Regions from separate parts of the Homo sapiens genome. Here region 1 is linked to region 2. Evidence: fine-mapped expression QTL. Tissue or cell type: whole blood. Region 2 holds a variant in brackets; the other region holds the start of a gene. All regions are shown on one strand. Distances are between the middles of the regions.

Evidence for each region. PIP is the estimated chance that this variant, and not a neighbour inherited with it, causes the effect.
Region 1: it holds the start of ZFHX3-AS1, and the variant in region 2 is fine-mapped to the expression of ZFHX3-AS1 in whole blood (INTERVAL, PIP 0.95).

Annotation. Positions count from the first base shown.
Region 1 is chr16:72,660,655-72,668,763 of GRCh38, reverse strand. ZFHX3-AS1 (ZFHX3 antisense RNA 1) reads right to left here and starts at 3,631. Exons shown (of 4, transcript NR_171704.1): 1 at 3,431-3,631. LINC01572 (long intergenic non-protein coding RNA 1572) reads left to right here and starts at 3,794. Exons shown (of 14, transcript NR_126330.2): 1 at 3,794-3,872. RefSeq lists enhancers at 3,833-3,892, 3,933-4,052.
Region 2 is chr16:72,441,600-72,449,708 of GRCh38, reverse strand. All of the region lies in intron 6 of LINC01572 (long intergenic non-protein coding RNA 1572), which reads left to right. All of the region lies in intron 1 of LOC124903718 (a long non-coding RNA gene), which reads right to left. Among named protein-coding and RNA genes, the nearest start is that of LINC01572, 220 kb to the left of the region's middle. The variant AG/G (reference allele first, on the strand shown) is at 4,922.

The DNA.
Region 1 (8,109 bases), 220 kb before region 2:
CTGCTCATTCTACCTTCTCAGTGTTTCTCATCCATTTATCTCCTATTGTCTCTACCCTAGTTCAGGGCTGCTTCATCTCTTAGCTGGACATCTGTAATAGGATTTTCCTGCCTTTAGGATATTTCCCACTTTAATTCATCCTACACACTGGAGTCTTATTAATCTTACTAAATTGCAGCTCTGCTCATTTAATGTGACAACAATTTACTGAGAGCATACTATATACTAGGTGCTCTAGGGCAGTAGATTCTAAATGGTGTGATCACCAGATTTATTAAGTGAGGGAAAACTTTTCAAAATAGAGATCCTCCACCACCTCTCCAGGCCTACTTAATTACAATCTTCAGAGCTAGAATTAAGACAAGTTTCTTTTTAAAAAGTTCCCCAATTGACTCCTTTGGGTAACACTAGATGCTTTTGAATAACATTAGACTGGAACAAATAAAGATTATGACATTCTTGTGTATTTCAGAACGTACTGGGAGGGATATGAACATAAGCAAATAGCTACCATATAATATGCCGATTAATGATATATTAGAGGTACCAAGTGCCATGAAAAGATTAATTCGAACTGCATTAAATACCTTCAGCACCACACCCAGCTGGATGAAATCTGTTTGTCCTGTAATCTTCCATAGCACTTTATCTATAATCCTCTTATGGTCTTCTTTCATCTTGCTCAATAATTATTTTTTTATTTGTCTCATTTCCTCTACCCTTGTACTTGAGGCCACAGTCTTGGTCTTTGTGGTGCATGTAGTCTGACAAGAAATTTTTTTTGGAGTTCAAATTTATTTACACGATAAAGTTACACAAAAAATTAAATTTTGTAAAGTTAGGTATTTAATAAATGATCTCAAAAATAGGTCCTTGTAACTCTAGGATATATGTAGCCAAACGTATGGATCTTAATCCCTGCATGGCACTTAGTACAGTTCCTTTAACACAACAAGTACTCAATAAAAAAAGCTGTGCATAAACCAATGGGGTCTGGGAAAAATGTATTTGGATATGCAATAAAAATACTTAATATGTCCAATATCCACCATCAGGTTATGATTCCAAACGAAGTAACATGGTGGTGGTTTTTGCAAACTGATAACCTGTAAGTCAAAACCAGCCAAACTGTTTTGTTTGGATGGCTCGGGTGGGGATGGAGGGTTGTTTACAATTTTAATTTGAATGTCTTCTGTCTGGGCAAATATACTTTGAATTGCCACAGGCCCTACCACTTCCTATTATCTTACACTAATCTGACTTACACATTTATGCTATCTATAGGTCTAAAAATGGGAGTTCTGAAAGGTGACAGATAATTGCTCCCAATCATTTCTGCTTTTTGAGTCTTGGCTACTGTTATGGCCTTGAGTCTCCCCAAAAGTTATATGTTAAAGGTGTAACCCCTAGTACTTCAGAAAGTAACCCTATTTGGAGATAAGGTGTTTGAAGAGGTAATTAAGCTAAAATGAGGTCTTTAACACGGGCCTAAATCCAGTAGGGTTGGTGTGCTTACAAGGAAAGAAAATTTGGACACAGGTGTGCACACACATGGAGAAAACAGCACATGAAGACAAAGAGATGAGACAGTGATCTGAGTCAAGGACAGAGACCTCAGAAAGAAACCAACCCTGCTGATACCTTGATCTTGAACTTCTAGCCTCCAGAATTGTGAGAAAATAACTTTCTGTTGTTTAAGCCACCTAGTCTGTGGCATTTTGTTATGTTTGCTCTAGCAAACTAATATGGATCTCAACTATATTTAGTATTAATCTTGGCAGTTTTACATCAAAACTTATTTGTTCAAGTCTGTCTGCCAGGTACATGGTGAACACAATTCTGAGTAGTTTAGGGTTTAGATGATGCAAGTTATATGTAAGATATATTCATAAACATAAATAAGAAACATTATAAAGAATACAAAAAAATGCCAAATAAAGACTATTATAGGCATTCAGGAGGGAGAGAGGTGACTATGGACTAGGTCACAAAAGATTCACAATTTGACCTGGGTCTTAAAAGCGTAAGTAGGATTCAGCCAAGCTGAGGAGAGAGGACATCAAGGAGATAACAGTGAACAATGCCAAATACATGTCTACTACCGGAGGAAATTTATTTTTCTCCTTTTAAGTACCTCTATGTTCAAGTTTCTTTTCTGTGCTTTCTAACCTCTAAGATCACTATATATTTTTAAATGAATGGTGTAAGTCCTTACAAAATTTAGGCATTTTTTTTTCTTGTCAGATAAATAACAGTTCAACTGACTTTGTTCAGTACAACACTGACATCCAAAGGATACTCGGGTTCATCTGAAGGCCTCTTGGGCTTCTGCTGAGTTGGTTTGATTTTCAAATGGTCTATGTAGGCAGTAAGCTGCTCATGGAACATTCTCTTTTGAAACCCTGGGCATTTTTTGATCTCTTACCCATTTATCAAATCTCATCACATTAAATGGCTCCACAATGCAGGTGGCCTGTGTTTTCCTAAGTGCCTCCTCTTCTTAAGAATGTATTACTCAGTTCATTAATGTTTCATACTTAAGTATTCTGTGTATTTAATTTTTTATTTAATGAAATTTCTAACCTTCAGGCTGACGAATTATTCAGAATGTTTCATCCAAGCTGTTGGAAAAGTGCTCATTAGCAGGGAGTTTTGAAGATGGAATTTTAAGAAAGGGGTTGGCAGGATCCCAAACACATATAGATCTAAGCTTTCATAAATGCTTCCCTACCTTAGCTATGGAGGAAGAAATTGTTGATAAGCAGATAAGTTTTGCTTTAGTTTTTACATTTTAGTGACAATAACAATGATTTCTGTGGTCTGATAAAAGATGTTCGTTTAAAGAGTTATCTGCAGAAAGCTGTGTGGTCACTAATGTTTACTTTCATTGACAAATGAGATCGTCTTGTGTGGGACTATCATCATCAAATGAGACACAACTGAAACTAAAGCAGCCATGCTTACCATTCGGTTTAAAATTTTTAAAATTAAAATAATGCTCCTAACGAAAGGAGTCTCAGCTGAATTAGTTTGAGTGTTGGCATGGACTGGGCTCAAATCACCTGCTCATCTTTAACACCTGCCTTCAGATTTATGGGCGATTAAGAACTTAAGTCTGAGAACCTATGAGACTGTCACAGAAAATAAAATTTCAGTTCTTCGTCCATTAACTGGTTCAGATGAAATTTGGGGTCAGAAACAACCAGAACGTTAAATTTCATTGTAAACTTAAATCGCATTCAATGGTTAAAGACTACAAAATGTATGTAGTGCAGTTAAAAAACCTCACACAGCAAGAGGTTATTGAATGTTTAAAGATCCAAAATTTCAACTTTTTGTGGTTAAGTACAGTTATGTTGGGTAACAAAGTTGACAGCAGGTTTCTGTTACCCCCCTGTTGGAGGAGGAGGAGGCGCTACCACACGCTTACCTTAGGGAAATAACGTGCACTTTATAACCGTTCAGGTAAATCGTTGGGTGAGAAAGAAGAATAAAGGACACAGCCGGTGGAGGGACCCCAGCACACAGTCCCGTGGGTGCTCCGGAGGAAACGGCCGCAGCCCCAAATCTCCTAGTCTCTCTAGCAGGGAGTTTTCCCGCGGAGTCTCGCCTGGCGGCCGGAAGCCACCTCAAGCCGCCCACCCGGAAGCCGTCGTCTTGGCAACTGGGTATCGTCCCACCCCCTTTTCTTAGCAACGCCTATCGCCTTAGACGTCTGAGGTCAGCCGAGCCTCGATTGGTTCCTCTGTCTTTCACTCTGGGAGACGTTTGAGACCCAGCGTCTCTAGATCTCGTATTTGAATTTGTGGCGCTTGGTGTCCGCGAGTTGCCGAATGAAGCTGAGCGTCTCAGTGGAACCAGGGATCTCAGGGGTGAGCGACCGCGAGGGGAGAGCGACGAAAAGGGCGGCCGGAGCTGGAGGGGCGCGGAGTTAAACAAAAAAGGGCGGCCGGAGCTGCAGGGGCGCCGAGTTAAACACGTCATTTCCAGATGGGGGGCTTCAGGCGAGCTGCTTAGCTCCCCTGAGGCAGGCCCTCCGTCTGTTCGCCTTTTCGTAGCCTCTGAGTTTTTCCCTCACGTCGTTTTCCGGCAGTCCCAGAGACGCCACGCCTGCCCCCGTTCTGTTGCCCCTGATGGAAGGCTCCTCTTAACGCTACCTTCCCTCTTTCACAAAATGTCTCTCAGCTTCCTTATTTCGACGTGCTTACACCTCCCCCAAGTATAATTCACTCCCCACTGATGTCTTTGGTAGTTTCATCCTCGTCTTCATCACTAATACTATGAGACACGGGGTGCGTGCACTTGACGATGTAGAAAAATGGTTTTCGCGCAACCTGGTGAGCGTCCCACACCTCACAAATTGAATCCAAAAAATTCCTTATTCATAAAAGATGCTGCTGTCCTACTCTTCCCGACCGGGAATATCATGACGTGGAAAGCAGCAAGTGACAGCGTTTTATAAAGCGCTACAAAAGTAAGCTATTGATGCGTTCACATCGGAAACATAATTGTTTTGTTTTCGGTCGGACCCTCTGGATCCATAGGTTTCGTATTGGGTTTATGGATACTGTTCAGACTTTGAAATGAATAATGCCAAAAGTTACGTTGGAGGACAAACTGAGGATTGATCCCAAGCACAAAAGTAACCACTGATTAAAACCTTCTCTTCATTAACCTTTAGCTTCTTTGTCTATTGTGATACTTCTCCCACCCCGGTGGATTTAATTTCCATTGAGATTTATGAACATTTTAGGAGTTTACAGTCTAAATAGACAGCTTTCCCCACCTCTCCTGTATATGACCATGAAAATCCTCTATTAACTTTCCAGTTTGATAATGCAGTATGAGCTTCTATATGCTTAGCCTCTAGAACAGAGATTCTTTTGGGGGTGGGGGGTCTTAGTCCTGTTTAAGACCCAGAGGAAAACCTTGGAGCTTTTCTCCAGAATATGACACATACACACAAAATTTTGTATTAGTTTTAGAGAGTTGTATTTTGTTTTAGTAGAAAAGAGATCTGACTTTGTTGCTCAGACTGATCTCCAGTGTCAGCCTCCCAAAGGGTTGGGATTACAAGCGTGAGCCGCCGAGCCCAACCCTGTTTTAGGGAGTTTTAGATTCTGTTTTGAAATGTGGATATTAGTGGGACCCCAGTCCAATTCTACACGTTTATTTATATATATACACACACGTATGTCTATATATATAATTATATATATTTACATAATATATATCTATGTATATAATTTTTTTAAGTAGAAATAAGCAGCGAAACAGTGTTTTAACTTCTACCGAATGGCTGTCATTTCTTAGTTTTAAGACTTGTAGTTCGGAGGGAGGTGGAATGAGAAGGCTGAAAATTTTACATGAGCTCTGATTTAAGGATATTAGAAAAGTCATTTCTAAGTGTGGCGGTCCACGCCTGTAATCCCAACCAACACTTTGGGAGGCTGAGGTGGAAAGACTGCTTCAGCCCAGGAGTTCGAGACCAACCCAGGAGTTCAAGACGATAGTCGGACCCCATCTCTACAAAAAAATTTTAAAATTAGCCAGCCGTGGTGGTGTTCGCCTTGCTCCCAGCTACTCAGGAGGCTGAGGTGGGAGGATCACTTGGGCCGGGGAATTCCAGGCTGCAGTGGCCAATGATCGTGCCTATCTCCAAAACAAACAAACAAAAAACAGAGAGATAAAGGTAGTAAGGTAGTATATGAGCACAGGGGCATACCAAAAAATAAGTTCACAAGGTATTGCATCCAGAGTCTTTTTGAATTAACAAGAAATAGGAAAATTCTTGATCAACATGAAGAGTGAAAATAGTTTGTGTGCCTTAATTTTTTGGATGTTTTATATTAAAATAATTTTATGGTGAATTCTACCAGCATATACCTGAATATAATCTCATAATCTTCTTCCTAACCATCTCAGGCATTATCTTTCACATGAGAACATTAGCTTACCTGAAATTTGCTTTTATATATGATGTGAGGAATGGCTTTAACTAAATTTTTTTTCACTGTTCGGTTGCCATTTTGGGGAGATTGGTCTTCAGTTTTGCTTTATTTTGATTGTCTGGTTTTAGAATTAGGGTAATGGTGTCTGACATCTTTAAGTGATCTGGGATGTGTTGTATTCTTTACTTCTTGAAAAAGTTTGTATAAGATTGGCATTGCATTGTTAAGTGTTTGATAGAATACATCCATCTATGTAGATCCATATTTTCATAATTTTCCTTCAGTTTGAATAACTTCATTTATTTAATACTGCATGTAGGTGAAGGATTCTGTCAGTGTTTGTTTCTTAGAAAATGTTTTTATTTAACTTTCATTTTTGAAAGATTTATTTTTAAACTGGATATATAATTGTAGGTTGACTTTTTTTAGCACTTTAATATTCTATTGTCCTCTGGCTGTTGTTTTTAGATATTTGGTGTCATTCTTATCTTTGTTCTCCTGTATATAATGTCTCCCCCAACCCCATCCCACCTCACCCTCACTTTTGAAAAAACAAAGTCGGGCATATTTAGTCATAATTTGCATATGGTAAAGTTGACTCTTTTAAGGAATACTGTTCTATGAGTTTGGACAAATGTGAAGAGTTGTGAACTATCACAATCATTTTTAGTATATCTGTAAGTCTGTAAAGTCTCATGCACTTATTATCGATTTTCTATCCTCACCATTGGTCCCTAGCAACCCTTGATCTGATATCTACTGCTATAGGTTTGTGTTTGGAGGCATCATGTTAGTGGAATCACATAGTATGAGCTGGTAGTGTCTGGCTTCTTTCACTTGATATAATACTTTCAAGATTCATCTATGTTCTTGCATGTATCACTAATTTTTTCTTTTAATGTGTGAGTAGTATTCCATTATATGTATTACCAGTTTGTTTATCCATTCAGCAGTTAATGGGCTTTGAGTTGTTTCCAGGTTTTGGCTGTTAGTAATAAAGCTGCTATAAACATTTGGCTACAGGTGTTTGTGTGGCCAAAGATTTTAATTTCTTGCTTGCTTGCTTGCTCTTTGCTTTTTTTTTTCCTCTCTATTTTTGTTTTGTTTTGTTTTGTTTTGTTTTTGAGGTAGGATATGGCTCACCATAACCTCGAATTCCTGGGCCTCAGCCTTTTCAAGTAGCTGGGACTACAGGAGCATGTCACCAGGCCTAGCTAATTTGTAATGTTTGGTAGAAAAAAGGTCTTGCTATGTTGTCCAGGCTGGACTTAACCTCCTGGTCTTAACCTCCTGCCTCAAGCAATCCTTCCACCTCAGCCTCCCAAAATGTTGGGATTATAGGTGTGAGGCACCATGCTCAGCCTTAATTTCATAAAATACTTTAAAACCTTTTTCAAAAGTGGCTGTCCCATTTTGCATTCCCATCAGCTGCATATGGCAGTTCCAGTTATTCAACAGTCATATCAGCCCTTGGGGTTTATAGTAGTTAGTAGTTTAAATTTTTTAAACTATTGCTCTGGGTCTGTACTGATGTCTCATTGTAATTTTAAGTTATATTTCTCTGATGCTTAATGAAATAGAGTAGTCAGTCATTCATCCACTTGTTATCTGAACGTCTTTTGTGAAGCATCTATAAAAATGTTTTGCCCTTTTTTTTTTTTTTTTTTTTTTGAGATGCAGTCTCACTCTGTTGCCCAGGCTGGAGTGCAGTGGTGCGATCTCAGCTCACTGCAGCCTCCTCCTCCTGGGTTCAAGCAGTTCTCCCACCTAAGTCTCACGAGTAGCTAGGATTACAGGCGCACGCCACCATGCCCAGCTAATTTTTGTATTTTTAGTAGAGACATGGTTTCACCACATTGGCCAGGCTGGTCTCGAACTCCTGACCTTGGGGATCCACCTGCTTTGGCCTCTCAAAGTGCTGGGATTACAGGCGTTTGAGTTACCATGCCTGACCTGTTTTGCCTATTTTATTTGGTAGTTTTATTGAGGTACAATTTACGTACAACAAATTTCATATTTTTAAAGTGTATACTTTGATAAGTTTTGACATGTACCCATGAAACCATCACCACAATCAAATTAATGTACATCTACAACATGGCTGAACCTTGGAAACATGTTAAGTGAAAGAAGCCAGTCACAAAAGGTCATATATTGT
Region 2 (8,109 bases):
TCAAGCAAATGGATTAAAGAATTAAATATAAGACCTCAAATACGAAACTACTACAAGAAAACATTGGGGAAAATCTCCAGGACATTAGTCTGGGCAAAAATTCCTTTCTTGAGTAATAGCCCACAAGCACAGACAACCAAAGCAAAAATTGACGAATGGAATCATATCAAGTTAAAAAGCTTCTATACAGCAATGGATATAGTCAACAAAGTGTAGAAAAACCCACAGACTGGGAGAAAATATTTGCAAACTACCCACCTGACAAGGAATTAATAGCCAGAGTATGTAAGGAGCTCAAACAACTCTATAAGAAAAATATCTAATAATCCAGTTTTTAAATGGTCAGAAGAAGACATACGAAGGTGCTCAGCATCATTGATCATCAGAGAAATACAAATCACAACTGCAAAGAGATTTCATCTCACCTCTGTTAAAATGGCTAATATCCAAAAGACAGGCAATAACAAATGCCGGCAAGGTTGTGGAGAAAAGAGTACCCTCATACATGTTGATGAAACTGTAAGTTAGTGCAACCAGTAGGGAGAATAATTTGGAGGTTCCTGAAAAAACTAAAAATAGAGCTACCATATGATCCAGCAATCCTGCTCCTAGGTATATACACAAAAGAAAGGAAATCAGTATATCAGAGAGATATCTGCACTCCTATGTTTGTTACTGCATTGTTCACAATAGCTAAAATTTGGAAGCAAGTTAAGTGTCCATCAACGGATGAATGGATAAAAAAATGTGGTACATATACACAATGGAGTACTATTCAGCCATAAAAGGAATGAGATCCTGTCATTTTCAACAACGTGGATGGAACTGGAGGTCATCATGCTAAGTGCAATAAGCCAGGCATAGAAAGACAAATATCACATGTTCTTACTTATTTGTGGGATCTGAAAGTCAAAACAATAGAACTAATGGAGATAGAGAGTAAAAGGATGGTTACTAGAGGCTGGGAAGGGTAGTTGGAGTATAAGTGGAAGGTGAGGATGGTTAATGGGTCAAAAGAAAAAAAGGAAAGAATGTGAACAAGACCTAGTATTTGACAGCACAATAGGGTGTCTATAGTCAAAAATAATGTTATTGTACATTTTAACATAACTAAAAGATAATTGGATTGTTTGTAACACAAATGTAAATGTTTGAGGGGATATCCAATTTTACATGATATGATTATTACACATTGCATGCCTGTGTCAAAACATCTCATGTACCCTGTAAATACATATGCGACTATGTATGCACAAAAATTAAAATCAAAAATCAAAAAAGTAAATATTCACAACTAAGAGTCACAAAGAAGAAATCAAAAGGGAAATCAAAAAGTATCTTGAGAGAAACAAAAATGGAAAATCAACATACCAAAACTTATGCAATGCAGCCACAGAAGTTCTAACAAAGAAGTTTATAGCAGTAAATGCCTACTTTAAGAAAAAAAGAGAGATCACAAATAAACAGCCTAACTTTATGTCTCAAGGAACTAGAAGAAGAAGAACGAAATAAGCCCAAAGTTAGCAGAAGGAAGAAAGGAATAAACATCTAGAAGAAATAAATGAAACAGGCTAGAAAAACCATAGAAAAAAATCAACAAAACAAAGAGTTGTTTTTTGAAAAGATAATGAAAATGATAATGAAAATCTTTAAGGAAAAATGAGAAAAGAATCAAATGAATAAAATTATAAATGAGAGAAGAGACATTACAGGTGATATCACAGGAATACGAAGGATCATAAGAATCTTCTGTGAAAAGTATATGCTAACAAATTGGATAACCTAGAAGAAATGGATAAATTTGTAGAAGCATACAAATTAACAAGGCTGAGCTTTGACAAAATAGGAAATTTGAATAGACCAATAGCAAGTAATGGGATTGACTAAGGAATCCAAAACCTTTCAACAAAGAGTATCTCGGGACAAGATGGTTTCACTGGTGAATTCTACCAAGTATTTAAAGAAGAAGTAACGCCAGTCCTGCTCAAACTCCTCCAAAAATGTGAAAAGGAGGGAACACTTCCAAACTCATGCTACAAGGCCGGCATTACCCTGATACCAAAGCCAGACAAGGACACTGCAAGAAAAGAAAATTACTAGCCAATATTTGTAACGAACATAGATGTGAAAATACTAAAAACAAAACTAGTAAACTAAATTTTACAGCACATTTAAAAGATTATATACCATTGTCAAGTGGGATTCATCCTTGGGATCCAGTCATGGTTCAACCTACACAAATCAGTAAAAGTAATATACCACATTAACAGAATGAAATATAAAAATCATATGATCATCTCAATAGATGCAGAGAAAGCATTTGATAACATTCAACATGATTTCCTGATTTAAAAAAAAAAAAACACCTCTCAATAGACTACGTATAGAATGAATGTACCACAACATAATAAAAGCCATGTATGACAAGCCCCAGCTAGCATCCTACTCAGTGATGAAAAACTGAAAGGCTTCCTGCAAGATCAGGAACAAGACAAGGATGCCCACTCTTGCCACTTTTTTCAACACAGTGCCTAGAGGTCCTAGCTAAAGCAGTTAGGGGGGAAAATCCATCCAAATCAGAAAGAGAAGAGCAAAATTGTCTCTGTGTGTAGATAACTTTACCTTATTTCAAAAAAAAAAAAAAAAAAAAAACCCTAAAGAATCCACCAAAGAGTTGTTAGAACTAATAAAAGTAATAAAGTTGCTGGAATTAATAGAGTTGTATTTATATCACTAACAACAAGTTTTCTGGAAAAGAAATTAAGGAAACAATTCCATTTACAATAACATCAAAAAAGAATAAAATACTTAGGTATAAATGTAACCAAGGAGGTGAAAGATGTGTTCACCTGTATTTATTATACTACATTGTATTGTACAATGTAGTACAATAAAATACTGATTAAAGAAATTGAGGTAGATGAAAGAAATGAAAAGATATCTCAAAGAAAATGAAAGATATATCATGTTTGTGGATTGGAAGAATTTATGTTGTTAAAATGTAAAATTCAGTGTGATCCCTATCAGAATTTCAATGACATTTTTCACAGAAATAAAAACCCAATCTGAAAATTCACTTGGAAGCACAAAAGGCCCCAAATAGTCAAAGCAATCTTGAGCAAGAACAAAGCTGGAGATATCACCCTTCCTAATTTCAAATTATGTTACAAAGCTATAGTAATCAAAACAGCATTTAGTACTGGCATAAAAACAGACCCATAGACCAGAGGAACAGAATCAAGAGCCCAAAAATAAACCCACATATATGCAGTAAACTAACTTTTCACAAGAGTGCTGAGAATACACCACAGGAAAAAAAATTAGTCTCTTCAATAAATGGTGTTGGGAAAATGGGATATCCACATGAAAAAGAATGAAATTAGACCTTTATATTACACTATACACAAAAATCAACTCAAAATGGATTTAAGACATAAACATAAGACCTGAAATTATAAAACTCCTAGAATAAAACATAAGACAAAAGCTCCTTGACATTGGTATTGGCAATTATCTTTTGAATATGACACCAAAAGCACAGGCAACAAAGCAAAAATAAGTAGGACTGCATCAAACTAAAAAGCATCTGCACAGCAAAAGAAACAATCAACAAAATGAAAAGGCCACCTACGGATTGGGAGAAAAGATTTGCAAACCATGTATCTGATAAAGGGTAGCTGGGTGCAGTGGCTCACCTGTAATTCCAGCACTTTTGGAGGCCAAGGCAAGCAGATCACTTGAGTCCAGGAGTTTGAGACCAGCCTGGGCAATGTGGTGAAACCTTGTCTCTATAACAAAAACAAAAATTATCCCGGCATGGTGGTGCATGCCTGTAATCTCAGCTACTCGGGAGGCTGTGGTAGGATCACCTGAGCCTGGGAAGGTAGAGGCTGCAGTAAGGCAAGATCACACTACTGCACTCCAGCCTGGGCAACAGAGTGAAACCCTTTCTCAAAAAAGGGGGGGCTAATATCTAAAATGTAAAAGGAAATTACACAATTGATAGCAAAAATGAAATAGCCTGATTTTAAAATAGGCAAAGGACCTGCATAAACATTTCTCCAAAGATAACATACAAATAACTTTTCAGGTATATGAAAAAATGCTCAACACCACTAATTATAAGGGAAATGCAAATCAAAACTGTAATGAGCTATCACCTAACACCTGTTAAGATGGCTATTATAATAGATAAAGAAAATGTGGCACATATATACCATGGAATACTGTACAGCCATAAAAAAGGATGAGTTCATGTCCTTTGCAGGGACATGGATGAAGCTGGAAACCATCATTCTCAGCAAACTAACACAAGAACAGAAAACCAAACACTGCAGGTTCTCACTCGTAAGTTGGAGTTGAACACATGGACACAGGGAAGGGGATATACACTGGGGCCTGTTGGGTGCTGGGGGGCTAGGGGAGGGATAGCATTAGGAGAAATACCTAATGTAGATGATGGGTTGATGCGTGCAGCAAACCACCATGGCACGTGTATACCTATGTAACAAACCTGCACATTCTGCACATGTATCCCAGAACTTGAAGTATAATTTTAAAAAAAAGATGGCTATTACAAAAAAGACAACAGATGACAAGTATTGGCAAGGATATGGGGAAAAGGGAATCCTTGTATACTGTTAGTGAGAATGTATATTGGTACAGCTATTATGGAAAATATGGAATTTTCTGAAAAAATTAAAAAATAGAACTGCCATATGACCCAGCCATCTCACTTCTGAGTATATCTAAAGGAAATGAAACCAGTGTCCAAGAGATATTTGCACTTCCGTCTTCATTGCAGCATGATTCACAATAGTCAAGATGTGGAAACAATTTAAATGTCCAACAGATGCATAGATAAATTATGACATATAAATACAATGTAGTATTTTTCAGCCTTAACAAAAAAAAAAAAAAA[AG/G]AAGAAGAAGAAGAAAATCCTGTCAGTAACAACATGGGTTGACCTGGAGTGCATTATGCTAAGTAATGCAGGCACAGAAAGACAAATACTGTGTAATCTCACTTAAATGTAGAATCTTTAGAAGTAGAAGTTACAGAAACAGAGAGTAGAATGGTGGTTGCCACAGGCCGTCGAGAGGGCAAAAGAGGGAGGTTATGGTTAATGGGTACAAAGTTTCACTTATACAAAATAAGTTAAGTTCTGGTGATCTACCATATAACATGATGCCCGTAGGCAAATTTGCTAGGAGAGTAGATCTTATGTTAAGTGTTCTTACCATACACACACCAAAAACAATAACAATAATAATGGTAAAGCAGGCGTGAGAAAACTTGAGGAAGTGATGGATATGCTTATGACCTTGATAATGGTAGTGGTTTCTTGGGTGTATACTTCTCCTCAAACTCATTGAGATATATACATTAAATATGTGCAGCTTTTTATATGCCAACCATGCCTCAATAAAGTTAAAAAGAAGCATCTAATGTAATCAAATAGATTTTCTGGTTGGATATAGTTTCATAGAAATTCAAGTATTACCAAAAAAATAATGGTAGGGTTATGGGCAGGGGCATCAGTGGTTTGATTTCTACTACTCAGTGCTTTAGCATCTGTACAAGGTACAAAGGATTTGATTCATAATTTTATTTGACTCACAATGTGTCTCTGTCGAGTTTGCAAGTGGAACTTCAAGCTCAACTATATGGAAACCAGATGACTGTTTAAATTTGAAGACAGAGAATAGAAAAGGATGGAATTCCAAAGTACTGTATCCAGAACACATAGAAGCTATGACTCACAAAGTCAAGGAGAGATGACTTCTTTTGGCATTTAAGATTAGCAACACCTTTAGGTCTTGACCAGTCATTCTCATAAAGAATGAAAATTCATCCTCCCAAGTAGTTAATGCATAAAAGAAAGCCTTTCCTCAAGAAAGAGCCAACATTTTCTTAATAGCATCCTATTATCTCAAACTCTAGAACGACTATGGAGAGGCAGATTATATTTTGTTTCTCTCAGAGAAGATATAAAGTTTTATCCACTTAAAGCTTTTTTTCTCCTAAAATCATCATCTAAACTGAATTGAAATATAATTTTATGAGAGAAAGAATTCACAATTTCTAACCGATGAATGGTTGTGAATAGCAAAAGCTCAGAATTTTCATTTTAAAAAGGGATTGGGGGAAAGAAGGTGATACTATGGGAAGAATATTGATCAAGGAGATAGGAGACCCAAGTTTTAAACCTAATTCTGGTATTAACCAGCTATGTGAACTTGGATCAGTAACTTTACACCTTTAAGTCCTAGTTGCTTTCACTCTAACTTGATAGAATTAGATTAGGCGATCTGGTCTCTAATGCATATGATTCTGAAAAGAAGGGGGATATCTTTCTTTGAAATTATATGGACTTTATTATCTAATAAGAAAAAAGTCAGAAGAAAATAAAATGAGTTATATGGATATCTAAATCTAACATCTATTAACTTGGAAGTGAGCATCCATAAAGCCCTTGCAGTTCTCTGTGCTTTGCAGCTCTTTCCTCTACATTAGATGGAGGTGGACGAATCAAAGAGAAGTGTACTTTTTGTTCACTGAAAGCTTTTGGCATATACATCAGCTAGAGTTGGTGTGACATTGCTGGCTACTGTGTCCTTTTCTTCTGGTCTGGAAATTCATAGCTAACTTAGGGAATTTATAAAGCATTTGCGTTCTCCGTTCTTTATCAATCACTGACAGACTCATTGTTTTATAATGTACTTCTCAGCAAGCTGTTTGTGACTCATCGCCTGCTTGCTTTATAGTCTATAAATATTTAATTCTTTAATAAACTGCTTATATGTAATATAAAATGACTGATGCTATTCTCTCTCTGCTCTTTTAATAGTGCTACTATTTGCAAAACAATTCTCTTTTTTTCTAAATAGCAATATGTTTCACAAATGTTTGACTTCCCTTTTTCTAAGTAGCAATTTATTCTGGGAGGTTGGTAGAATGACAGGCAGGAAAACAGCCCCTTACTTCTGGGAGTACAATATAACTCTTCCCTCATCCTCACCCCTACTAAGCTGCAAATTGATGAGGTAAAGAAGATGGACTTTGAAATTGTGACAGAGAGCAATCGCCTGTCTCTCTATAGACTCAGTGTGCAAAACAGCCTTTAAATCTCTAGACTAAATGTTTACAATGGACAAATATGGTTCCCTCTTTGCTCGACATCCTTTGTCTAGGGGAATCATAAAAAATAGTCAGGGATAATATACCAACACCTTAGTGTGCCCATCTTTATAACTGTGTACTTGATTTTTTAATGTTGGCTGATGTGCTTTCTGTGCCATGAAATAATTTTTCAATATTTAATGTCTCATTTTTTAAGTTGGATAAGTCAGATGCTTATTGAGTGCTTGTTGTGTGCCCTGCACAGCTGTTAGTGTGTTTTCAAGCAAGCTACTATTATTTGTCTATGGTATTTCAATATAATTTATAAAACCCTACAAATTGTGAACTCCCTTGTGCTAAGGCAGGGAGGAAAAATTGGAGAAACCAGAACAAATAACATTTCTTCAGTGCTACCATTAATCAGGTACATTTGATCTTGGAAAATTCGTGGGGAGAGTGGGGATAGAACATTTGTTTCCAAGTTTGAAAATCTTGATTTATATGCTACTTCCGTGATGTATTAGCTATTACTTTAAGCTTTTCACCTACGCTTTTTTACCTGTAATATGGGCATAAAAATTATGCAGTTTATATGAACACCTGACATATACAGGTTTACTTTGTTTTATTACCCTCCTCTGCACTTCACAGATATTGTGTTGGTTTTTTTTTTTTTTTAACAAATTGATGGTTTGTGGCAACCCTGGGTGAGCAAGTCTGTGGTGCTCACTTTGTGTCACATTTTGTTAATTCTCTCAATATTTTAAACTTTTCAGTCTATTACGGTGTTCTGTGGTCAGTGATCTTTGATGTTACTATTGTAATTGTTTTGGGATGCTATGAACTATGCTCATATAAGATGGCTAACTTAAATTATCAATGTTGTGTGTATTCTGACTGCTTGAGCAAGTGGGCATTCCCCCATCTCTGTTGCTCTCTTCAGGCCTCCCTGTTCCCTAAGACCATATGGATGTTAGACACAACAATAT